3 separate regions of the Homo sapiens genome follow, and all the other regions are linked to region 3. The links come from fine-mapping of genetic effects on gene expression. A gene starts in region 3. Each other region holds a variant in brackets. All regions are shown on one strand. Distances are between the middles of the regions.

What was found.
Region 1: its variant is fine-mapped to the expression of UNC5CL in whole blood (INTERVAL, PIP 0.98).
Region 2: its variant is fine-mapped to the expression of UNC5CL in whole blood (TOPMed, PIP above 0.99).

Annotation. Positions count from the first base shown.
Region 1 is chr6:40,960,151-40,968,330 of GRCh38, reverse strand. All of the region lies in intron 1 of LOC101929555 (a long non-coding RNA gene), which reads left to right. Among named protein-coding and RNA genes, the nearest start is that of UNC5CL, 75 kb to the left of the region's middle. The variant C/T (reference allele first, on the strand shown) is at 4,120.
Region 2 is chr6:41,066,872-41,075,051 of GRCh38, reverse strand. OARD1 (O-acyl-ADP-ribose deacylase 1) reads left to right here and starts at 2,696. Exons shown (of 6, transcript NM_001329686.2): 1 at 2,696-2,816; 2 at 3,377-3,456; 3 at 3,776-3,920; 4 at 4,918-4,976; 5 at 6,099-6,211; 6 at 7,615-8,180. The coding sequence starts at 3,418. The coding sequence ends at 7,717. NFYA (nuclear transcription factor Y subunit alpha) reads right to left here and starts at 2,078. Exons shown (of 10, transcript NM_002505.5): 1 at 1,968-2,078. RefSeq lists silencers at 1,188-1,347, 1,378-2,007 and enhancers at 2,388-2,437, 2,468-2,677. The variant C/T (reference allele first, on the strand shown) is at 4,959.
Region 3 is chr6:41,034,750-41,042,929 of GRCh38, reverse strand. UNC5CL (unc-5 family C-terminal like) reads left to right here and starts at 3,709. Exons shown (of 9, transcript NM_173561.3): 1 at 3,709-3,768; 2 at 7,795-8,180. The coding sequence starts at 7,856. It overlaps TSPO2 (translocator protein 2), which reads right to left and starts at 463. Exons shown (of 4, transcript NM_001010873.3): 1 at 152-463.

The DNA of each region.
Region 1 (8,180 bases), 75 kb after region 3:
GGCATTAGACAGGGACTTAAAGACAAAGGTTAATTGAGAGGGACAAGGCAGTGGCTCAGTGTTAGAGACCTACTGCATGCCTTCATCTAGAAAACTCTTTATTTAACTGAAGCAAGCATCTGAAATTCAAAATCTTACAGGGGTCATAGAGGCAACATAACAAAATAGAGCTGGGGGATAGTATTTTTGCTGAATCTTGTTTGGGTTGTGTTGTTTTGAAACACATGCACTTAACCATATTGAACTCATGATTATTCTTCACTTGCATCAAGAATTATACTCACATTATCTCTCACTGCACTATCCTTGTGGTCCAGGCTTGCTTTTCCTAGTTCTGTTAGCGACATGAATGCAGAAAAATGTATTCCCATTGTTGGAAAAATAAGGGAACAGATGTCAAGGTAAGTGACACCTGATTCCCAGCCTCAGGTAGGGATAGTGGCACACTGGGGAGAGAGCATGGCTACCTCTTGGCTCAACCAATTGATGCCAGTCAATGATGTGCAGAGCTGTGGGACTGATGTTGCAGGAGCTTCTAATTTTTCAAGAGAAGGTAAAAATCTGGACCCTGAAGAAAACCTGTTAGAATTTACCCAACAACTTAAAAAAAAGTTTTAAATACTCTGTGAGTTAAACAAAATAATGGTGCCCTCTTCAGCCTGCAGCCTCTAGTTTTTGATTCTGCGAGAAGGTGGGGAGATAGTTCAATTCAGATGAGGCAGTGCAGAGGACTCTGAGAGCAGCTGCTTCAAAGGGAGTGGCAATGGAGTCTTCATTTGTAGGGCTGTTTTTCTTAAGGCAGTTTAAAGGATGTTGTGTGCAGTGTCTCACAGGGAACTGAGGAGCTACCTTAAGCTACTTACAAAGGACATTGTCAAGACTCAAACCCAGGTCTTCTGACACCAAGCCAGGGACCTCGCTTACACAGAGTTCCCAGGTATTAACAAACCTAGTGTTGTTTGTGAGATGAGAGGCTGGTGAAAACATGGGTTTGGTCTGTCTGTCCCCTGCAGGATGTGTGATCTTGGACATGCCACTTTCCTCTGAGCCATGTTTCCCCACCTATATAATGGAAACAGCAATAAAACCTATTCCTTCCAGGGTGGTTTAAGAATTACATGAGACAATGTGAGAAAATAGCTTTACTGAGAACTTGACACGAAGAAAATGTTCAAGCTTCCGTCACTGTGCGGCTCCCAGTGCCTGAATGTTGTGTGCCAGTGGTATGCGGAAATGGATCTTGCACACTGGCTGGGGTTGGGGAACCCATGCCTTCCCTTAACAAATATTTACTGGGGGCCTATTATGTTCTAGGCACAGTCCCAGGTACTCAGGAGACAGTGGTGAGTAAATGGGGGCTGATCTATGCCCAATGGGACTTAAAAATCCAGTAAGACAGGCAACCATTCATCAAATACCTCACAGAAAAGATATCACAACACAAAGATTTCCTGACAATGTGACAACATTTGTGAAGGAAAACCTAGGGTGTTTATAGAAGAGGGATCGGAGAGGTCCTGACCCCTCCTTCATATATATAATATATATATAAATAAATAAATATATATTCATAAATAAATAAATAAATAAATATTCATATATAAATAAATAAATATTCATATATATGTATATATAAATATATATAAACAAATATATTCATATATGTGTGTGTATATATATATATATATACACACACACACACACACACACACACACACACATTCTGGGGTAAGATATATATTTACATTCTGGGGAAGTGACTCCTACATTGAGACCTGAAGAATGAGGATCAACAGACTGGACACAGAAATAGGAGCCTCATTTTGTCCACGTTGTTTGTGATGTCTTGAAGCCTCTAAGTGCTGTGCCAAGCAGGTAGCTGACTGAATAGAGAGCTCCGCAGAGAGGTGCTGAGCTGGAGATGGAAATGTGGGAGTCATCATCACACAGGTGGGCCCTAACCTATGAGACTGGCTGAGCTCGCCTAAGGAGTGAAGAGCTGGAAGGAAGAATCTCAGACAAAAGAAAAAGAGACCTGGTCCCTCCTCCTGGGGGAGCTTGTCATGCAGTTGCAAAGTGGGGACCCATACTTGGAACATGGCTAGAATCAGGCTGAAAATTGGCTCTTTCCCCCCATTTCTCCTACTCTCAAACTATTACCTAGTCTTTAGGGTCCAGTTCCAATGCCTTTTACCCAGTCACCCCATGAATAGAGCCTGCTTTTCTGGCAGTATGTGGTTTGTTCCTCCTCATCTAAGTGCACACATAGTGCATGCATTGTAACTACTCCTACTTCCAAACAGGTCTTCTTGGTCCTCTTTGAAAATTCAGAAAACAAAATGTCATGAATGTAATGAAAAGGATCTTTCTCTGGTGGGTAAAAATCTTAGAGTGACTTTAGATGAAATTTCCACCATTCTGGAAAACCCATCCTCATGGTCTGGGCCTGGAGATTTGGAGGGTCGCAGATGAGAAAATGTTACAGCTGGAATCTAGAGAATTTCTGGATAAGAACAACCTCTGCTTTTATTCTTGAAGAGACTGATTGAGGCTCAGAAGTTTTAGGAGGCTTTCCCAAAGATATATGACTGCATCAGGGTCTAGGCCACAGTATACCCTGGATATTTTGCTGAAAACGAAAAGCCCCAGAATTTTTCTTATGATTGGCCTGGTTCTTCCAAATTAAACTAGGTGGGAGAAGTTACTAATAAAGAATTCTGGTTAGTTGGCAAGCAATGATTAATATGCCAATGTTCCTCAGTTGATCGTGAGTGTGAATTCACTTTGTTTGATCGCGTAAGTTCCTTGAAGCCCTTCACTTGCACCTTATTTTCTCATAGTACCTCAAGACTTGCCAGGCACATAGTAGGCACTCAGTAAAGAACTGCTGAATTAAATGATGCTTGCACCCACATGCACATCTCATCCTCCAAATTCTTCCCTAATGGACCGTGGTGACATGCTTTAATTAAAAGACCGCTATTAAAAATGGAGCCCTGATGAGTAAACATGGTAATATGTGGTGGAGGGAATGATTCACTAGCTTCCAGCCACCAAAGTTTAATTAATCCACTGTAATACCATTTAATGTTATTGGATACTCACCACAGGGGAGAAGCTGGGCCTCTGCAGGGAATGTAAAGAAAGATAAGGACACTCAGGTTTCTAGGATTCTCATTGGCTGAAGCCCAGAGAGGAACATTTCTCCTTCAACTGCTTCCTTGGTCTAATAACTACTCATTGGGTACTTTGGGTTCAATATTTGCTATTTCTGCAAAGTCTGGCTTTGAATGCACCATTGGCACCACACTCTACCTATAGAACCTGCTTTGTTTTCTTCTTTCTTCATCCACTAGTCTGTCATTATTTCCATCCTTCCATCTGTTATATCCACCCATCTATCCATCCAGTCAGCTTGGAGTACCTTTCTTTTGTGCCAGGCACTGTTTAAAGGTAAGGTCCTAGACGATCTGGTTGTCCCCTTCTTCAGTTCCTACCACCTTCTTTTTCACTCCGCTGAGTGTCACACCAGCCTTCCTGTTATTCCCTAGGGTCTTTGCATTGACATTCTCTTTGATTGAATTCCATTCCACCAGATTCTTACATGGCTTACTCCGGTATTTCATTCAGGCTTTTGCTCAAATGTCCCCAGGAGTACTGCACTTCCATTATGCTATCCCCTTTACCCTGCTTTCTTTTTCTTTGAGCCACTTATCACCACTTGAAATTATAGCATTTATTTATGTGTTTATTGTCTAGCTCTACTTTTAAGATGCAAGTTCCTTGAAGACAAGGATTTTCTTTATCTTTGATGCTATATTCCTAGCACCTTAAAGATAGTCCAGCACAGAGTAAGTGCTCAGTAAGTATTTGTTGAATGACAGAATGATAATGGCCTTAATTTTGCCCTTGAATGCTTTACAGTATATTTAGGGTGACAGAAATAATATTTAAGAAGATAAGTAAAATAAGGTGGCCAGATGAATGGTTTCTGACCATCAGAAGACAAGATGATCATGTTTACTTGGAGGGGGGATTTCTTGGAAGGCTGGGAGCACTTAGATAAGGGTGATGTAGTAGATAACATGCCTGCCCCACCCACATCCCCCCATACCACCT[C/T]CAGGTTCACGTGCATCTGCCATAGACAGTGACTGTGCCCACTAGCGCTTCCCACTCACCTGCTCAGGGTTTTGGATCTCTGGGTTTTTCTGGTACTATGGGAGTTTGCTCAGCTTAGGTACAGGGTGACCCAGAGGGGTTGGAAATTAAAGTCCCCAGAGGTCAGTAAATAAATATTTCTGCTTCCCTGTCCAGCACCGGGACAACTCAGAGGCATATTCTCTGCAGTCACTCCTGGGGGGAGTGAGTCCAAGTGTCCAAAGCAGTAACCCCCTCATACATGTGCCCTGTATTGGCTTTTCTCCCTTCCCTGTCTCACTTCTCCACCTCACTTGGTGTCTTAGGCTCACCTCTTACATAAACCACCAGCACCTACGATCTTGTCTCAGGGTCTGCCTTCAGGAAACCCAAACTAAGACAGTCAGTGTGGGGAAAGGCTATTCCAGATACCATGAAAAAAGTCAGTAACCTGTAGATTTCCCTGGGGCCCTGACTGTCCAGCAGTCTGAGCCCCTGCACCTTGCTGGTGCCATTGACCACTTACTCAAGTGAGGGGGAGCCTTTGATCCCTGGTGGCAAGGGAGGCAGCAGAGTGCAGGGAAAGGGTGGGGGTCTAGGAGTCAAGAGTCCTGGGTTCTCTCTGGGCTCTGCCACTAATATGCTGTTTACCCAAGGGGCAAGTCCCCTCTCTGGTTCTTAGTCTTGTCATTGGCCCAGGGAGGTGTTTGTGCTGTCTCATCCCTAAGCTTCCATGTTGCTCTGAGATGCCACACCAGCTCCATGGTTTGCTTTTCTTCACTTCTCTTCCCTCCCACTCCAATCATCTGTATTTGCCTCTTGGTCTATTCCTGCAAAGTCCCCATGCTGGGCCTAGTTTTGGAGGTCTGGATGGTAAAATACCCAGCGTTAGTTTTCTCTAGTAAGGAAAATTGTTTTCTCTACGCCTGAGGTGTCATTATTGTTAATAATGATGACATCAGTCTACCTCATCAGGACCTGTGAGTGCTTAACTAAGAAAAATGCTTTTGTCATTGTTAGTAAATATGAAGTGTGCCTACTCAATCAGAATGACACCTCCAGACGGGTGAGTCCATTCCTTTCCCCACACCCCAGCTACTCATTTGCAAATGAGCCCTTCTTCAAATGACAGTGTTTATTTTTTATTGATGTTTCAGCACTTTGACAAATACATTTTTCCATGAAGAGAAACATAATTAACTTAAGTCATTTATATTAATCACAAGGGGGGAAAGTCATGCAAAACAGGGGTAATTTTGTACTGAACAAGGCACGATATCTAATGAATATAGATGATGCTGATTTATGTGTTTATCCAAAAAGCATCAGTGGGGGAAAAAAAAGCCAACACCAAACCTCATCCCACTCCCACAAAAAAAACAACAAAGAAATAGCCTTCAAGGTCTGTTTAATGAGGCTTCCTCGTTTGGTGGCATCCTGCCCACAGATTGAAAAATAAAATGACTTTTCAAGTGTTTATGGAGCTTGAAAAGCCAGAGAAACTCCTTCCCAGCGTGGGTGCCCTCTGCATGAATTCAGGGAAACTGGAATTACTTATTTCAGCAAATTCAGGCTGATGAGGCCCAGTCTACACAGGTGGGCTGTCACAGACTCCTTCCCATGGAAGGTTCAGGAAGGATTCTGAGGTCTGTCATTGCAGGATGTGGTCAACAGAGTTCTGGCCACAGTAGCTCAGATTCCCCAGCTGTGTCGACCAATGGAGGTGGATCCACTTGATGGAAGGTTGGAATGATTCACCACTGTGAGTATGAGTGGTAACACTTCCTGTTTGTGTAGTTCTCTCTACCCTACACTTGTGAGTAAACTAATTGGCTGGGGCTCACAGAAACAAAGAAGAAAGACTCAGGCAAGTGGGAGGAGACAAGGAAGCACCCTAGGAACATCATGAAGTCACAGAATGTTCGAGCCAGAAGCCCATACCTGGCACAAAACTCACCTCCTCATTTTCCCACTGAGGAAACTAAAAACCAGAGAATGAGAACAGTTGGCATTTGTTGAGCATTCGCTTTGTGTCGGGCCCTGTTCTAAGTGTTTTTTGTGTTTTAATCCTCACAATAATTTTATGAGATAGGTACTATCATTATACCCATTTTACAGACAAGGAAACCAAGGCTCAGAGAAAGAAGGGTACTTTCGCAAGGAAGGTCCCACAATAGGAGACTGGCTGGACTGAACCAGACTTTGGTCTTTCCAAACCCTTCATCCAGAGCGGAGGGAAGCTGGTCATTTGTATGAATGAAACACCTGTGGGAGCTTTTATGCCAGACTTTGGAAACTTTTTAAGAGCTCATACTGTCTCTTTTTGTTTTATGTGGTCTGTTCCCTTTGCTGCCACTAGCCATAAACATCCCTACAAAATCTCAACAGACTGCAAGCTTGCCTCAGGGACACAGAGGTGATGGTTTAATGAACTACGAGATGATACTCCAGGGGATCTGGGTTGGGATTATTAGGCGGAGGGAGTGAATGTGTGTCGGCAGAGGACCTAGTGCCCAAGGGTCCCAGAAGAACAGAGAGGCCTGCCCTGGAGCTGGTCTGGGACCTTGCAGGGCCTTGCAATAGCAGCCACTGCTCATTTTTTCTGGTGGAAAAATTGAGGCAGGGCAACCTGTTCCTGTCCACTCAGGTTAGTGGTGAGCCCTGCCTACCTGAATCCTTTGCCTAGTCACGATTTTTCCTCCACTCCAGGCTCTCAAATATTAGACAGTAGTCCTGAGGGGCATTGAACTCTGGAGCCAGAGTGTCTGGATTTGATTCCTGCCTCTGCCACTTAATGTGTGAACTTGGAAGAGGCCTCCAACCTCTCTAGGCTCAGTTTCCTGTACCTCCACCACCGGATGGCTAAGGATTAAAGAGCTCGATGTATGCTAAGGACTTAGAACAGCAGAGCAGCATATGTTAGCATCAGCCATTGTCACTATTATTATTGGAAACAACCCAAAGCCCGTGAGCACTCACCTCCTCATCAGTGACCACATACAAATCTTAAGCAAACACCAGATTTGGGCAGGTCTAGGACACTGGGGAGGGCAGGCAGGTGTCTGGTTCAGGGGCAGGCTGCAGCCACATCTGCCTGCATGCACACTGAGCCTCCTGCCCACTGACCAGGCTGCAATTTGTCTCTTGCCTGGTCTGCAGCTCCCTGCACATGCCAGGCCAAGAGCGGGCGCCGGTGCCAAGGCCCCATCTATCCTCCACTGCCTGGATGGTGGGGCTGGAGAGCGCATCTGTCACTGTCTCCGGTGGCATGGATGACTGGCATGTCATCTTTGACAAATGTCTGTGCTGGCGAGCTCTGTGCGGCTGTGGGTACTTACAGATGCCGAAAACTCACAAACACAGAAGGGCTGCTCCGCACGCTGGCAAACATAAATGAGGACTAGGGCAGCTATGGATTGGAAGGCGGGGGAAAGGAGGCAGCAGAGTGCAGGACTTGGACTGGGAAGACCTGGGCTCTGCCTCTCACCATATCCTCTCTCTGCACCAGGGTTTCATTGCCCATAAAGTGGCCATAAAGGTCTCTGCCCTGTCTTCAGTGATATCATAGGAATCAGTCATAATTTTCATCATACTATTGGCAATGATAGCTGCAAACCCTTATCAAACACCTGCCTTGGGTCAGGCACTTACACATACACACACTTCCTCACCAAATTCCCACAAGCACATTTTACAGATGAGGAAATGGAGATTCAGGAAAGCAACTTGTCTGGGGTCACATAGCAAGTGTCGGAGCCATCTTAGGACACATAGGACACACCTTAGGTGCATACTGTAGGTCAGGGGTCAACAAGTTTTATCTATAAAGGGTCAGAAAGTTGATGTTTTATGCTTTGCAGGCCTATGATCTCTTGCATCTACTCACTGCTGCCCTTGTTTTTTGCAAATCAGTCAATAAATAAATGAATGTGGGTGTATTTCAATGCAATGTTATTTATAAAAACAGTTGGTCAGCTAGATTTAGCTCTGAATCTCTCAGGCCATAGTTTGCTGACCCCTGGTCTAGGCTTCCAAATCAAAGG
Region 2 (8,180 bases), 32 kb before region 3:
AAAATAAAACCTGTCCCCGAAGTTTTAGTAATGAAAGAGCACTGGAATACGAGTTTTCTGAAACCTATTAGTTGTATAACATTAAATGTGAATTTAGAAATGGGCACCAGATACTTAAGACCTTTATGTGCCAGGGAATGCACTAGATGATTCACATGAGTAAAAATAATTTTCAGAGTCCTAGGACAAGTCTCCTCTTCATCCCCAAAGAACTCAGCCACTATCACGGGGCAGAACCCATAAACAAGTCAGAAACTCGTTTTTTCAATCTTAGGAAAAAATATAGCTCTAGATCCCTTCTACTTGAACCTCCATACAAAATAATAACTGTTTCCAAAATATTCCTTAGCAAGATATACAAGTATTTTACCAACTGGGCTTTCCCCCCTAAACTATCACAACTACTGCCCACTTCCCTATCCCATCTTCCTGCCTCCAACAGTGTAATTTGATTCCTCTGCACATGCTTTTCTTCTCTTCGAGCAAGCTCTTCCATCTTTCCTGTGGAAGAATTACCATCATTCTTCAAGGCCAGTCAAAAGTGCGGTGGTGATAAGCCTTTCACGGAGGCTAGCTCACGCATGGATACTTCACAGCAACTGAACTTGGCCCCTTTATAGCACTAACCGTTAGGTATTAACTACCTGTTCACCTGTCAATTTCCATCAGGTAGGCACAGTTCTTATTGACCTCTACGTACTCCCTCCCTAACACACGGATTATACCTGGCATATACTAACTGCTGGATAATTGGTTGCCAACAGCAACCTCTCACCCTAAGGAAAACCCCACAACACTGTTAGTTTCTAAACATCTGCTGAGAAAACGTTAACACAGGACTTGAAAGTGTATCAGAAAAACATAAACCAAGAGATGAGTGGACTGGGTCAAGCCTGACACAAAGTAACATAGAAAGGCGAAGGCAAAAACAAAGGGAAAAAAAACCCCCAAAACTGTACTATATTCCCAAGGGAGGGAGATTTCACAAAATGAGCAGTGGATAAGATTAGTAATATGAACAGCAAGTTGTGCAGCCTCCGGAAAGAATGCGCAAGGGTATCAATCTTCTAAGAGTGAGGTTCCAGGCACCGAATGGACTGGTCTTACAGCCCGGACAAGAAACGGAGACCGCTTGGTTGGGCTCCAAGACGGAGGTGTGCGGTCCTGCCACTGCGAACGGGGCGGGGAAGAGAGGAAATGACGAGCCAAAAGGGGTGGTAACGGCGCCGGGCCGGAGACCCGGGCGGAGCGGGCTGGGAGGAGGGGCGCGGCGGAGCAGGGGGAGTGGGCGAACTAACGGCCCCCTCTCCCCACCAGGGAGACAGCGGGGGCGGGCCCATAGGGCTCCGAGGCGTGGGCGGGCCAGCCCCGTTGCCAGCCGCACACGGGACCCCGCGGCCGCGGCGCGCACCCTCCCCAGGCCTCCCTCCCGACCTAGAGGGGCTGCAGATAAGACAGACCCGGCTCGCTGGGAGCGGGGAGCGGGGGGCGCGGGCCCCGGGGAGGCTTCCTGTCCCAAGGGCCGGAGAGTGGAGAGTGCAAGGGCAGGTTTAAGTTTGCGGCCAGAACGACCAGGAGGAAATCGCCGAGGCCCAGGGCGCGCATGTGTCCCCTAGTGTAGGGCCATTCGTGGCCCCAGGCCTGGGGCCTGAGAACCTGGGCCTGAGTCGGGGAACAGGGACGCATTCCCAACTGGCCCTGGCACCCTGCGAGGGTCGGAGCCCCGAGGTGCCTGCTCCCCGAGGCGCCATCCCCGCGCGGGGCGGCCCCTGCAGGCCTCGGCCGGGAGTGCCCCGAGGCGCTCGCAGGCCCCGGGCCGGGGCCGCTGGCCGCCCGGCTCGGCTAGGCTCAGCTCGACTCCCCGGGCTCGACGGGCGCCTGGGCCTCTCCTGAGTGGTCAGCGAGACCCGCCAATCGGGGCGCTGGGGCCGGCTCTGGGCCGCTGGATATTGGCTCCTCACACTCACCGTGCCTCGCTCCCCCGGTTCGCTGCCCGCGCTGATTGGCTCCAGTACCGGACTCCGAAACCCAATCAGAGGCTCCAGCCGCCGCTGCCGCCGCCACTGCCGCTGCCTAGCAAAATGGCGAACCCGAACAAAGGGGAATCGGGCCTCCCTCCAACCGCCTCCGCGCAGGCGCCTCTGAGGCCACGCCCACTAACTCCAGTTCAGGGATCGCCCCACCCCTTCGGAGGAGCAACGCGCAGGCGTTCCCTGAAGCCACGCCCACCTTCCCGCTTTGACACCACCCCCAGTGAAAGGAATACGCAGGCGCTTTCCAGACGCGCCAGACCCTTCAACTCAAAACGCTGCCTTGAGCTTAGTACTACGCAGGCGCTAACTAGCCCCTTTGCCAGCTGCCCACCCCTTTCCAAGTGGCCACTAGGACACACCCCTGCGGCTAATGCGCAAGCGCCACTTTTCCCGACTCGTGGGGCAGTTTCGTTACGCATGCGCGGGCGGCGGCGGGAAACCACGGAATTTACTGCCGGAAGTTCGGCGGCCTTCGCCAAAGAGTGTGGGCTCGGCTAGCAAGCTAGAGGGGCTCGTTTCCGCCCCGCTACCGGGCGGGGGCGGCCATCTTAGATGCGTGCAATTAAGGGCTTTGGCGGGATTGGCTCCGCGTTTGGGCTGGTCCGCTGCTCCCCACCTACCAGGGTCGGATCCGGAGCCCTTCCCCGCGGGGCGGGGACCTCCAAACAACCGACTCCTTTCCAGGTGAAGGGTGACTTGGGTACGTTGGGGCTTTGAGCGAGCCTCCCCGCACCCTCCCATAGGACCCCAGGACAGACTGCGTCCTCGCTGACCCGCCCTAGGGTAGGAGACAGAGAATGGGAGGCTTCAATAGACTCTTTCCTTCTCCCACGCACCCCCCAAAAAAGTGGGGGGTGAACGTTCCTTGAGAGGCCGCCTTCCTTTCCCCACGCCTGGGGCTCAGCACGCCAGTACCCTGTACACTCTGTGGTTGCGGCTTAACGGGACTGTGGCCAAGTCCCTTCTGTTTTCTTCTAAGCCAGACCCACTGGGGAAATACTTTTGCGTCGTGCAGAGAAAAGGAGACCGTCCTAAATCGGCCTTGCTCCGGAGTGGCCCTGGAGAAAGGAGGAGGCGTGTCTTAGGGATGGGCTTTGCTTCCGCTGACGGAGCGGGGCGCTCCAGGAAAGCACGAAATGAGAGCGGGTCGAGACAGCCTCCGAACCTAAGCGTTCTTCCTCTTTGCCCCAGAAGGGTTTTGTATTACGTCCCAGGGGCCGAACAAACTCACATTCATCGATAAACGTTGGGGAAAAAAGCCTATTAAGTGGTTGTACAGGGCAATCAGAATATTATATACTAAGGCTGCCTAAGCATTTTTACTTCCTTTTCCCTTCTCATAGCTGAAGAAACACTTAAATTCTGGAAATAGCGACTCAGTATCATGGCCAGCAGCCTTAATGAAGATCCAGAAGGAAGCAGAGTGCGTAACAACTATTGACTTATTGGTGAACTGAAATTCGTAATAATGGAGGTCAAAAGCATAAACACTTTTTAATTAAATTAATGATTGCATTATCTTTTTTTCTCTCTAGCTGATTTACTTTAAAAAGGCTCAAAATTCTAGGCAGGGATCATCCATTACTTTCCTTTTACACATGCTGTAATTGGTTTGGCTTTAAATCAGATTGGAGGAAGGGGTGCCGGGAGAGGTAGTCGTGGGGGACACAAAATACAGAAAAATAGCTTAGTATTTTACTGTATCTAATAAAACATTGTCTTTTCCTTTGCACATTTTTTAGATCACTTATGTGAAAGGAGACCTTTTTGCATGCCCGAAAACAGACTCTTTAGCCCACTGTATCAGTGAGGATTGTCGCATGGGCGCTGGGATAGCTGTCCTCTTTAAGAAGAAATTTGGAGGGGTGCAAGAACTTTTAAATCAACGTGAGTTTTGGAAACCACTTACCTGGTTTGCCCTGGCTAGAGCACCTTTTAATCTGTTACACTTTAATAAAATATGCGTGTAAAGAGGGGATTCCTAAGAACCAAATGTTTTTAAGATTTTCCTCCCCAAGAATGGCCTCTAGTTTAGACGTTTACCATATCAAAACCCAACTCCTGTGAAGGTTTTTAATCTCTTCCTCTTGTATCATGAAACTTTCTTGACGATATTACTGTACTTCTCTGAAACTTGAAATAACTCTGAGATGCTTAGTCTATAGGTTGGCATTCAAGATCCTTTACTTACCAATATTCTGCTTTCTCTTCAAAGAGGAATTTAGAAACCTCTTCTTCCTTACAGACCCCTCCCATCACTTTCTACGGGCCACTTTAAACCAGAAATGTGCACTAGAATCCTATGTAAAGCTTCTGCAACAGTTTCTCCGACCACATTCCAGGCTTAACAGCATCAGTGTCCACAGTGATTCTTAGCCTTAGACAAAAGCAATTCTTACTGCTTTGTATTATAGTTATTTGGAATGATGATATCTTCTCTGGATTGAAAACTCTGTAATAATTAATTCCTTTTTTATATATCTGTATTCCTCATAATGCCTTATACAGCTCTTTGTATGTAAAAAGATAATTATTGAGTAAATACACATTTGGCAAGTAAAAAACTACACACTATAAAACAATTTCAAGGCAATAGAGAAAGTTTGTGGACAAATGAGGATATATTTAAAAGTAGTAGTGGTACAAAAGATGGGTTGTGAGGAAACATGACTGTAAGAAAGCTGTTAAGTTAAGGAATATAGTATTTGGGAATGCTGATAAAAAGCAAAGTGTTTGTGGGAGACAATAGGTCTTCCCTATTCCCTTCTTCAGTGTTGAAAATTCTAGTTCTGAGGTAAACTCAGATCTGTAAACATTTTAAAATCTTTAGAGATCAGTGTTTGGTTTTCTTTTTCATTTCTACTATTAAATAACTTTTTCTTAGAAAAGAAATCTGGAGAAGTGGCTGTTCTGAAGAGAGATGGG[C/T]GATATATATATTACTTGGTAAGATGGGGCCAATTCCTTTTTTTTTCAGGGCCAGTTCTTAATACATTTTAAGGATTTGTGAACAGATGGGCTGCACTGCATTTGTGTTGATCATGATGTTCTATTCTAGACAACTAAGAATGTCAAAAAGCTTCCTATCTTATGACAACTCCAGTCCAGTGATGGCGGCTACTTGGAGCACTGGGTTAGAAAGAAATGTGAGGCTGCATCCCAGCTCTGTGGGAAAGTCGTGTATCATGTACCATAGGCCTGTTCTAAGACTTGCAAAAGTTAGGAATGCCTGCCATACTATATTTCCTAGGCAGAGTGAGATAAAAACAATAATGTCTCAAGAGACAGATTTCCCAAAGGAGCTTTTCTCTTATTCCATGTCAAATAGCACACTGATAGCAAGGGGGTGAATAAAAACAAAAAATAATAAGTGCAGTCCCAAATAATACTTAGCTCCTCTCCTAACTACTGCCTGAATGTGGGGTTCTTCAACAGTCCAGGATGGCATTTGGTCCCTGAAAGGGTGTGGCTTCCTTAGTGGTGGTGGTGGGTAGCTTACAGCTAACCCACTACAAGCCTGATCTGGATGACAAACTGAGTGGGGAGATGTCCTAGCCCCTTTGAATTCTGTCCTTAAAGCTTATGTGGCTTCCAGTGGTTTTACTTTGGGACCCTACCAGTTTTTTCTGTTGTTTTATGTAGAGAGACAAAAAGCAAGCAAGCACAGTTTCTAAATAAGTAGAGGCTTTTAGCAGGGAATTTTCAGGTGGTATGCTTTCTTCCCTGTTAGAGATATGCAGCTTATCTCTTGGAAGTGGCACAGAGACTTCACCTACCTTGCTTAAAAATATTGACAATAGGCATCATCTGCTAATCTCATGGGTTTCCTAGGAAAAGGAAAGATTGCTACGTGGCAGAGTCTGGGTTTCTCAGCCTCTATTTAGTGGATTTTCTTGAAGGTCTCCCATAACAGTGTGGAAAGGGCAATATGACATTTGTCATCCTTGCTCTAGACTAATTCTATAAAAATGTGCTTACTCTTTTAATTATTGGGATGTTGGGGGAATGTGATGACTTTTCTTTGGCTATCATTTTGGGATGATGAAAGTTTGAATCCTTTGTGTTCAGATTACAAAGAAAAGGGCTTCGCACAAGCCAACTTATGAAAACTTACAGAAGAGTTTAGAGGCAATGAAGTCTCATTGTCTGAAGAATGGAGTCACTGACCTCTCCATGCCCAGGCAAGGAAATCCATGGTCCTAAATGGAGATTTAATTGATTGGTGGGGTTTACTATCTTACCCAAAGACAAACAACTTAAAAGCTTAACCCAAAATATAGATTTAAAGGTGGACAAAAGTCAAAATTTTGTAAAACCACCAGTGAACCAGTTGTCTGGCTTTAGACTAAGGCACAGCCATTTTCTAGCTTGAGTTGAATGAATCAGGACAATTACCTTGAAATATACATCTGCCTCAGCCTGCTTAGCAGAGAGCGACCATTGTCATTCAGCTACATTTGTTGAATTCTCAGCACCCTCTGCTTGAAGCTTGGCCTTTATTCCTAAAGCAATGTAAGCTAAAGAATCAAGACTGAGCAATGGTGGTTTTCCTCTTGGACCACTTCCCATCTCCCAAACCTATTACTTTGCGTCAAGAAAGTTGTAAATTATCATTCCCTTTTATACTGCACACTTGTTTTGGTCAGTATGGGTAATAGCCAGAGGATCTGTCCCTGATGTAACTTCTTAGACTTTAGCTATTGGGAATTTAGGGAATGACATTGAGGGTTCAGTAGTCCCTTTGCTTTCTTTTCAGGAAATGGGCCTCACCTCTTTTCTTCCTGTCACCCTGGTAGTTTTGAGTCAATGCTGAGCATACATGCAGTTTTATCTTGCGCCCCACATTACTTTGCATATGGCCTCAAATGTCCCTTATTTTACACTGGTCTTTGATATATTTATGGTGTACATACATATCAGAAACTTTTTTTTTAATCACAATTCCTTATGGACTTAATTATCACATTATGACATGAAATTACCAATTTTAGGTCTCTTTTTTCCCTAGGCGTGTTGAGGATCACTAGAGTAACATCTTGGAAGGTGCCAAGTAGTAGAGTTTTATGGACTGAGTTTATTCTTACCAGGGTGTTGCAAAGACCTTACTCCTGGATTGCAACTATCTTACCATTTCCCAGCATTCCCTCTTGACTTTCTTTTTTGCAGATCCTGTACCTCATTCCTCTTCTCCTTACTTTCGTTAACATTCTGTTACCATAAGTGCATTTTTAAAATACCAACCTTTCACCATCCATCCACAGCCAATTTTAGTCAGTAGTCATAGAGGGATAATGAGTCTCTAATGTCATGACAGTTACACATTTCTAAATGTAGCATGAAATAGTTGGAAAGTAGTATCTTATTAGGCAAACAGAAGTGATAGTTTTTGGATGTTAGAGCTGTCTAGGAATGGTCTTCGGTGACTCACAACAAGAATTGACTTCCAAACTCCTACCATGGTTGCCCATAAGGGTGTCAGACTAGATTATTTGTTTTTATGCTTTGAGTGGATATAGCTTAAAAGAGAGGAGCAGTTTCCTAGATACTTTCGTTACCATCAATGGAGATATTTTGTCTTTTTCAGGATTGGATGTGGTCTTGATCGTCTGCAATGGGAAAATGTATCTGCGATGATCGAGGAGGTATTTGAGGCAACAGACATCAAAATTACTGTGTACACACTCTGAACCAGTGAACATTTTGGATGTTTCCGTGTTCTCCTGTGTCATCTCTACTGGGCCATAGGACCGGGCAAACCTACCTTAAAATAGGCAGAGGAAAGTTTCATGAGAAGTAGTGTGTTTAACAAGACAGACTTTGGTTGCTGTATTCAAGTATTTGGATTATGACTGTGGAGGAGGGCTTGCTTAAGATATGTGGTTGTGTTTTTTTGTGGAAAAGTAAGGAGTTAGGTGGCTTGATAATAGGCAGGGAAACCAGATTGTCGGGACTATGACCTTTTTCTCCAGTATGCTACCTGATTTGTTTGGCTGGCCACTAGGTGGCAGCATTGGTTCTACTTCTCTGCTTTTTAAGAGAAATTTCAGGAAGGATGATCATTCCAGTTAGTTTGGCATTTTTTGTCGTTTGTGCACATAACTTGGTGTTATCCTTATGTCATCAGATTCCTCCTAGGGGAGAGTTTTTGTT
Region 3 (8,180 bases):
CCCTGCGGCTCCTCGTCTGTCTCTGCCTCCTAACCTGACTCATTTCCTGGCCTGAGCCCCTCAGAGAAGGTCTACTCACGGAGGTCCTTCCTCTCTCCCTGGCCCAGCTCCAGTCCTGTACCTCTGAGCTCTCTCCAACCCCAGGCCACACCTTGCCCATCTCCTGGCTTCCATGGACTTCTTTTCTCCACAGCACTCCTCTGGCACTTGGAGGACACTGCCCAGCACTGGTAACTGCTTCTAAGTGAATAGGCCTTCCTCCAAGTGCTTCTGAGTCCTGGAGATCAGGTCCCGGGTGATGAGCTTTTCTGCAGTGGGCAGCGCTTAGCCAGGTATGTAGCTGGCCCTCACCGAGAACTGTTCTACCTAAGCTGATCTACCAACCTGGAAAGTTCACAATCTGAAGGCAGGAGCCAGAAATTCCTGGGGACTCTTTTCTAGTCACGAATGCGGCAGCACATCTGTCCCAGGCTTATCTCACCATATCAGACTGGCACACTCATGGGGCCCACCCAGGCTGATCTCCTGCCCAAATTCAAACTTGGCCTGTTGACACCGTGGATTCCTTTTTCTGAACTTTTAGCTCTCTTCTACCCCTGGAGCCATGGGGTATGAGCTTCCTGCTCCATCTTTCCATTCCCAGAGTGTCAGGATGTAAGCACAAGCATCCAGGTTTCTTGTGGCCTGACTTTTCAAGGAAACAACTGCCTGGTCTTTGATTAAAAAGCTGCCAAGGTGGCATGTTGCTTTGCATGTCATTTGCATGTGGGACAATGTACAGACCCTCCTCCAGCCAAGGCCCCACCAAGGCCCCACAAATATCATTCTTCTCATTTGTTCATGATATTTCAGCCTCCCCCCATGATTAACCAGATTTGAAGGAGAGAAAACAATCTGATTATTTTCAGTATTCTGGACTGACTATCTAATCCATCCTTTTTTTTTTTTTCTTTTCATACAGAGTTTCACTCTTGTTGTCCAGGCTGGAGTGCAGTGGTGCAATCTCGGCTCACTGCAACCTCTGCCTCCCTAGTTCAAGTGATTCTCCTGTCTCAGCCTCCCTAGTAGCTGGGATTACAGGCGTGCGCCACCATGCCCGGCTAATTTTGTATTTTTAGTAGAGATGGGGTTTTGCCATGTTGGTCAGGCTGGTCTCGAACTCCTGACCTCAGGTGATCCACCCGCCTTGGCCTCCCAAAGTGCTGGGATTACAGGCATGAGCCACTGTGCCTGGCCCTAATCCATCCTTTTCTGTCAAGGGTCAGGGACACTGGTCCTGGAGGTTCTGGGACAGAGCTGAGCAGCATGCCCACCTGTGCATATTTCTACTTGTCTTTCTGTGCTCCTGACTGTCCGTTTGCTCATCTTCTGCCTTCCTGTTTTTCTACATTTCTGTCCAGTGGTGGAGGCCCCCTCCCTGCCCCTCCCTGCCCCCATCCTCTTTTCTCCTGACACCTGCCTCTCCCAGTGCCTCCTGGTTCCTAGGCCTGTGCTCCCCTTACCTCTGGCAGCACACCTCCCAGGCGGGGGGCCTGATGACATATGATGTGTGGAAGGCAGAGGAGGGTGGGGCTGGGAGGAGGGTGGGGCTGGGAGGAGGGTGGAGTGGTGCTCCCTGCTGATCTGCCTTTCTCAGATGAGAAGGGTGGTGACACTGGCTGGGAAGTCCAAGTTGCTGTTTCATGGCCCCAAAGAGTTCCTCTCAGGAGGAGCCCCTCTGGTCTGCCAGACCCTCCTTGGTGCCTGGCCTCTGGAGGCTACCCCTTGATGGAATGTTTGAGGGCTTGTGGTGAGGGTTTGACACTGGCCCTCCTGTGACAGCTCAGCCCCCAGTTATAATGCTGTTGATGCCTGTGGTCTTTGCATCCCATGAACCAGCTCTGTGGCCATGGGAGTGAGTGGTAGGAGCCTTCACATTTCTTCAGAGCCTCCTTATAATTGGGATTGTCCCCAAGAGTGGCAAGAACTAGCTTGGGAAGTGAGTTCATAATCCATGAACACAGCCCCTGGTTATAGCCTCCTGGTTGGCATGACCTTCCTGGCTTAGAACCCTAGCTTGACAGATCTTTCACAAACCCCTAGGACTTTATGACTCAGAGGAGAAGGCAGCTGACAAGTGGAGGTGGGTGGGGAGTCAAGGAGGAGTGACCTGGCGCTTCCTGGCAGAAAGTCCTGCCTCCCAGCCGCCCTAAAGAGGGGTAGGGGAGAGTGTCCCTGTCTGTTGGCAAAGTCCAGCCTCCTGTGTGACTCAGACAGAGCTTTGTTCAACAAAGACAAACACCCCTACCCCACTCCTTTCATTCCCTATCAAAGTTCTGAGCACCCCTTCCTGGCTTGTCTTTAGGCATGAGGTCTGCTTCCCAGGTTGCCCGCTCTCTACCATCTCTGCACTTTGGGGTACTGGGCTCCCCTGGGAGGTTTATTCCACCCTCTCACCTCCACCAGGGAAGGAAGCAGAGGGGAGGGCATTGCAGTCAGAGACAAGAGGCTAGAGAATTATTAACTGAGACAAAAGCAGAGGAAGTTACTTATTTTCTATGGGAGATGATAACTAGGGGCCTGGGGGGGCGTTCACCATGCCTCCTCAACTGCAGGAGGCCAGACCCTGGTGACAACGGTTACCATCTATTGACCACCCATTCTGTGGTGGGCATTTGACATTTATTAGCTCAATAATGACAATTATTATCTCACACAAGGTAGATATTCTTAACTGCATTTGACAGACAAGGGAATTGAGGTTCAGAGGAGTTAAGTAGCTTGCCCAATATTACATACCCAACGTGTGGCTCACCTGGGCTCAGTGTTGGCCAGTTGGAGCCAAAATGCATCCTTTTCCCTCTCAACTGCTTCACTCATTCATTCAAGACATGTTTATTGAACACCTTCTATCTATCAGGCTGTACCAGGAGCTGAGGAGACAGCCGAAAACATGGGAAAAGTTCCACAAGGAGTTTTCATTCTTGTGGTGCCACCGCTCCTAGGCAGAGTTTTAAGAACTCAGAATGGCAAATGGCCCCAAAGTTCAGTTGTCTCCCAACCGGCAGTGTCTCTGCCAACTTTGGGTGGGGGAAGTAGAAAGCACCTTGTGTAAGGAAAAATATGGGTACATCTCAGGTCCACCAGCAACTGGTGAGTCATTAACCGTCTCAGTGGCTCCACTGTCTTCTCTGTGTGGGGAGCGGGTGGAACTAGATGCTCTCTAAGCTCCTTGGACCGGTTGCATTGGCATCAGCTGGGAGCTTCTTTGAGCTGCAGAATCTCAGGCCCCATACTAGACCTACAGAATCAGAGCCTGCATTTTAACAAGATCTCCCAGGTGACTGTTGTGCACATTATAGTTTAAGAAACTCAGATGAAGGTTCCCTCCTCCTCCTATCTGCTATTTTAATAATAGCCTCTGGCTGGGGACAGCCACTCACCAGCAGAGGGCACTGTAAGGAGGGGTTTCAAGGTGCAGCACCTACACCCAGGTTGTCTCCCTGCCTCCCTCCTTCCTTCCAGACCTAGACTGGAAAGTTCACTGACTTCTGGGATCCTCAGCTAATCCCTTACCTGGGCTGGACTTTGCCAATAGACAGGGACACTCTCCCTCACCCCTCTTTAGACAGCTGGGAGGCAGGGCTCTGCCAGGAAATGCCAGGCCACTCCTGCCTGGATTCCCCGCCCACCTCCACTTGTCTGCTGGCCTGCCGACTGAATCTGGCTGACCCTTGTTTCTCGGAGAAGGAACTGGACCAGCCAGCAGCCTCTAAGAGCTCCTAGACGGTAAGTTGAGCACCCCCTTGGGGCAGCTGGAGAGGGGATGGGCATTGTGATGGGGTTACCTGGAGCTTCGGGGGAGGAGCCAGGCCAGCTTAGCCTGCCTGCTGGAGTGTAGGGACCCTCTGCTGGAGGAGGGGAGGAAAATGGGACTTGGCCAATGGGTATGAGGACCACTGGGATGATTCTGTGTCCTGCGGAAATGTCTACTATACTAACAAATGCCATTCATGACTTGGGTTTGGACCATCCATCCCAGTACTTGTTATGTTCTGCAGTAACTGGACATCTATCAGGTGTTGGGGAGGCACAGGGAGAACCAGTGAGGTGGAGGAAAGGTTGAGAGTTTTCTTAAAGGGTATGAGCAGAACTTTGCAGCAGGAGTTTGGATCTTTGTGCTGGAGGATGCAACTGCCTAGGGACAGGTGATGGCAGCATTCTAAAGGACTCTCGTTTCGGGGACCCGCTACCCAGGGTGATCTGGGGTCTGGAGCAAGACAGACTGGAGGAGTGGGTAATGAGGAGTCCAGGCATGGGGTTGGGATGCCCCAAGTCACACTCGAATGGCTGCAGTGCTATAGTTGCCATTCAGCAAGACTCCGGACCTTTCCCCATTCTGGAGCCAGAGGGAGGATGCAGTGAGGGCCAGGGCAGCCTGGAAGAGCAGTCACCCTGGGAGAGGCCCAGTGGGGCTTTGGGAGTGGTGCATGCCAACTTCTCCAGGGTCGGAGGTTGAGCCAGGGGACTCTACTGCACCACCCAGTGAGGTGCACCTCACTGGGGATCTGGACTCTGGTCTTTGGTGGCCCCAGGAAGGTTACTGCTGTGTAAGCGAGCTGGGGCCCCTCCTTTCATCCCTTTAGCAATTCCATCCCCTGCCACTGGTACCTTGGTAGGTGGGGGTGTGGTGTAGTGGGGTGGGTATTACCACATAACTGAGGATGTAAATTTAGGTCCTTCTATTTGTCTTTACTTCATTTTTGCTTCTTTCTCTTCCAACTTTATTTCTTCTAGAGAAGGAAAGGAAGATACTTGGGGAAAAGAAGGGGTGGAGAGAGAAAGGGGGTATCTCTGGAAGTCCTTGTTCGTCTTTGCTCCTCCTTCCTGCCTGTCTTCAGTTGTTTAGTAATTCCCTATCCATCTTCACTGTGGGGAGAAAGCTCGGATTCCTTATCTGTGAAATGGAGATAAAAATAACACCTCGCTCCTAAGGCTGCTGTGAGGATGAGATGAGACAAGCCATGGAGAGTGCTTTAACACAGTGGCATTGAGTAAAGCTCTGCGAATGTTAGCTATTGTTATTACAGTTGGAATTATAATTATTACTAATGTGAAAGAACCAAAAGAAATGATGGGACATCAACGGTAGCTTGCTGCTCCAACCCCCTTCCCATCAGCTTTGGGACACTGCCAATTCACTGATTCACCTGTGTGCCCTCCAGGATGCCTGGTTGAAAAAGGCTGGTGCATTGTCTGCTGGGTTGGCTCTTTAGGCAAAGAGAACAATGCCAACCCCCGCTTCTTATTCACACTTTCAGTGAGGACATGGGAGAAACAGGTACTGCCCCAGTCTTCAATCCTGAGGATACAGTGGAGGTTCTGCCCTGGTCTAAGAGGCACTAGGAAGGGGCTTCAGTTTTCATGGGTCCTGAGGTTGGAAGGAAGAAGGTGGGCCAAGCCTCAGTTCCAGGTGGGTAGTGCAAGTGAAGGGCGTGGGGAGGACTGGATACTGGAAGCTCTTCCAGTGCAGCCTCTAGTGAGTCAACCAGAGGGGCCTCCCAGGGCTCTGAAGGAGGACGTTGTGCCTCACAGAACTCAGCTACCAAGCCAATGAATTCCATTCCTGCAGAAGCTCCTTGAGAGCGGAATAAGACGTCATCTTTGGCAGGATTGAACTTCCCACAGTGTCCGATACACAGCCGGTGCTTAGAAAATGTTCATTTGAGTGGGAAAATCACACATGACAGCACATAATCAAGAGTGACTCAGTATGGTGGGATGGCTGTGGAGAGAGATTTCGCGAGCTGGAGGCTGTCAAAGGCCGGTGCACCAGCGGGAGGCACTATTGAATGGGAGGATCCACGTAGGGAGAGGAAACAAGTGGGGAGAGCAAGTGAGTGGAGAAACAGAAAACAGCATGAGCAAAAGCCAGAGGCTAGAATTAAGCAGGTGTGGGGAGCCTGGGCAGGCTACAGGGCAGGCGTGTTGGAAATTGTAGGGGCTGGAAGAGGGGAAGTAGGAGGAGGCGGAGGTGGGTTCTGGAGGGCCTCAGGAAGAGCTACTGGGAAGTCTCAGCCTGTGGCCTGGCTGGGTAGCCAGGTGAGCAGGAGGTGAGTGTATGCTTTTGCCCTGCCTCATTCCAGCTTCACTGTAGGGCTGCATCTTTGTGTTTTGTCTTCTTCATTTTTTTTTTTTTTTGCTTCCACTTTTAGCTTTTGTTGTTCTTGTTGTATGTTGCCTATCCCTGTGAGCTACCTTCAGGCCTTTCTGGCAGAAGGAGGGGCATAAAGAAACACATACATTTGGACAGTGCTTTCTCATCTACAAATACTTTTCACATGACCTTATGCCATCCTCACCATTACACAAAGAGGCACTTTTTCCCCACTTTTAATAGCTTCAGAAAAGAATTACAAAGTTAATACAAACTACATGCTTGATGTGAAAAATTCAAAGTACAGAGAAAAGGATTTAAAAAAATACAAAGTTTTTATTCACACCTTCCACCTTCTCAATTTGTTGTGACTCATGGGAATAGTTTGGGGGTGTGTCCTTCCAGACCTGCACAGTCTAAGACCGGATTCATTAGTACACGTGGCTACTGGGCACTTGAAATACAGCCAGTCCCAAGTGAGCTGTTCTGTTCATATAAATTACACATGGATTTCAAAGACTGGGTATGAAGGAAGAAAGTAAAAATATCTCATAATTTTATATCGATTACCTGTTGAAATAACATTTTGAATATATTGGGTTAAATAAAATGTATTAATTTCTCCTGTTCTTTTTAATGTGGCCATCAGGAAATTTAAAATTACATGTGTAGTTCACATTACATTTTTATTGTACACCACTGCTCCAGACCTTTCTCTATACCTTTACATTTCCATATATGCACCCATAAATATGTATCTATTTATATGCAGTTTTGTTTTTCACATTAATGAGCTCAGAATATTTTATCTCTCTGCGACTTGCTTTTTCCACTTATAGATTTTTTTGTATCAGCACTTGTAGATCAAGGTAGATATTTGGACAGATGAGGAAACTGAGGTACATTAAGCAGTATTGAGGCAGGAGGTGGGATTTGATTCCAGGCCAGATAGAAAACTGGCTGAAACAGGGAAAAGGCACCAAAAGCACCTCTCCATAAGACATGCCCACCAGTGCCATGACAGTTTACCACTGCCATGGCGATGCCTGGAAGTTACTGCCCCTTTCCATGGCAGTGACCCGAAGCTACCACTCCTTTTTCTAGAAATTTCTGAATAACCCACCCCTTACTGCATGTAATTAAAAGTGGACATAAATATGATGGCAGAAATGCCCCAGAGCTGCTACCCTGGGCACACTGCCTAGGGTTAGCTCTGCTCTGTAAGGAGCATACCTCTGCTGCTGCTATACTCTGCCACTTTAGTGAAAGTTGCTGTCTGACACCACTGGCTCACCCTTGAATTCTTGCCTAGGTGAAGCCACAAACCCTCCCAAACTAAGCCCCAATTTTGGGGCTCTCCTGCCTTACATCAATATGATAAGTTTACCCAGCCACAGTGACCAAGGTGACATTTGAACTCATGTTCTCTAACTGTAAACCCAAGCTCACTCTGCTTCAGAACAGTTTACCTTGATGTATTAGGTCACGGGGAGCCAGGGTAGGTTCTCGAGTAAGAGAGACAGGTTAAAAGAATTGGTGTGACTAAAGTGTGCAGTGTGCGCTGGAATGAAGACAACTTGCAGCTATGTGTAAGCCAAGCCTTGACCTCCACAACTTAAAAGGGCTTACCCTGACACTGACCCCTTCTTCCCCACCAGGCCTTTGGCTTTGGCTGGCACAGGGGTGAAGGAGAGCCAGCGGCATTGAGTAACCAGGCGAATGTGCCCCCAGGAGAGTTCATTCCAACCCTCCCAGTTCCTACTGCTGGTGGGGGTCCCAGTGGCAAGTGTCCTCCTTCTGGCCCAATGCCTTCGATGGCACTGCCCTAGAAGGCTGCTGGGGGCCTGCTGGACACTGAATGGTCAAGAGGAACCAGTGTCCCAGCCTACCCCCCAACTAGAAAATGAGGTCTCAAGGCAGCACCTGCCAGCCACACTGCCAGAGATGGTTGCCTTCTACCAGGAGCTACACACACCCACTCAAGGCCAGACCATGGTCCGCCAGTTGATGCACAAACTGTTGGTGTTTTCGGCTCGAGAGGTGG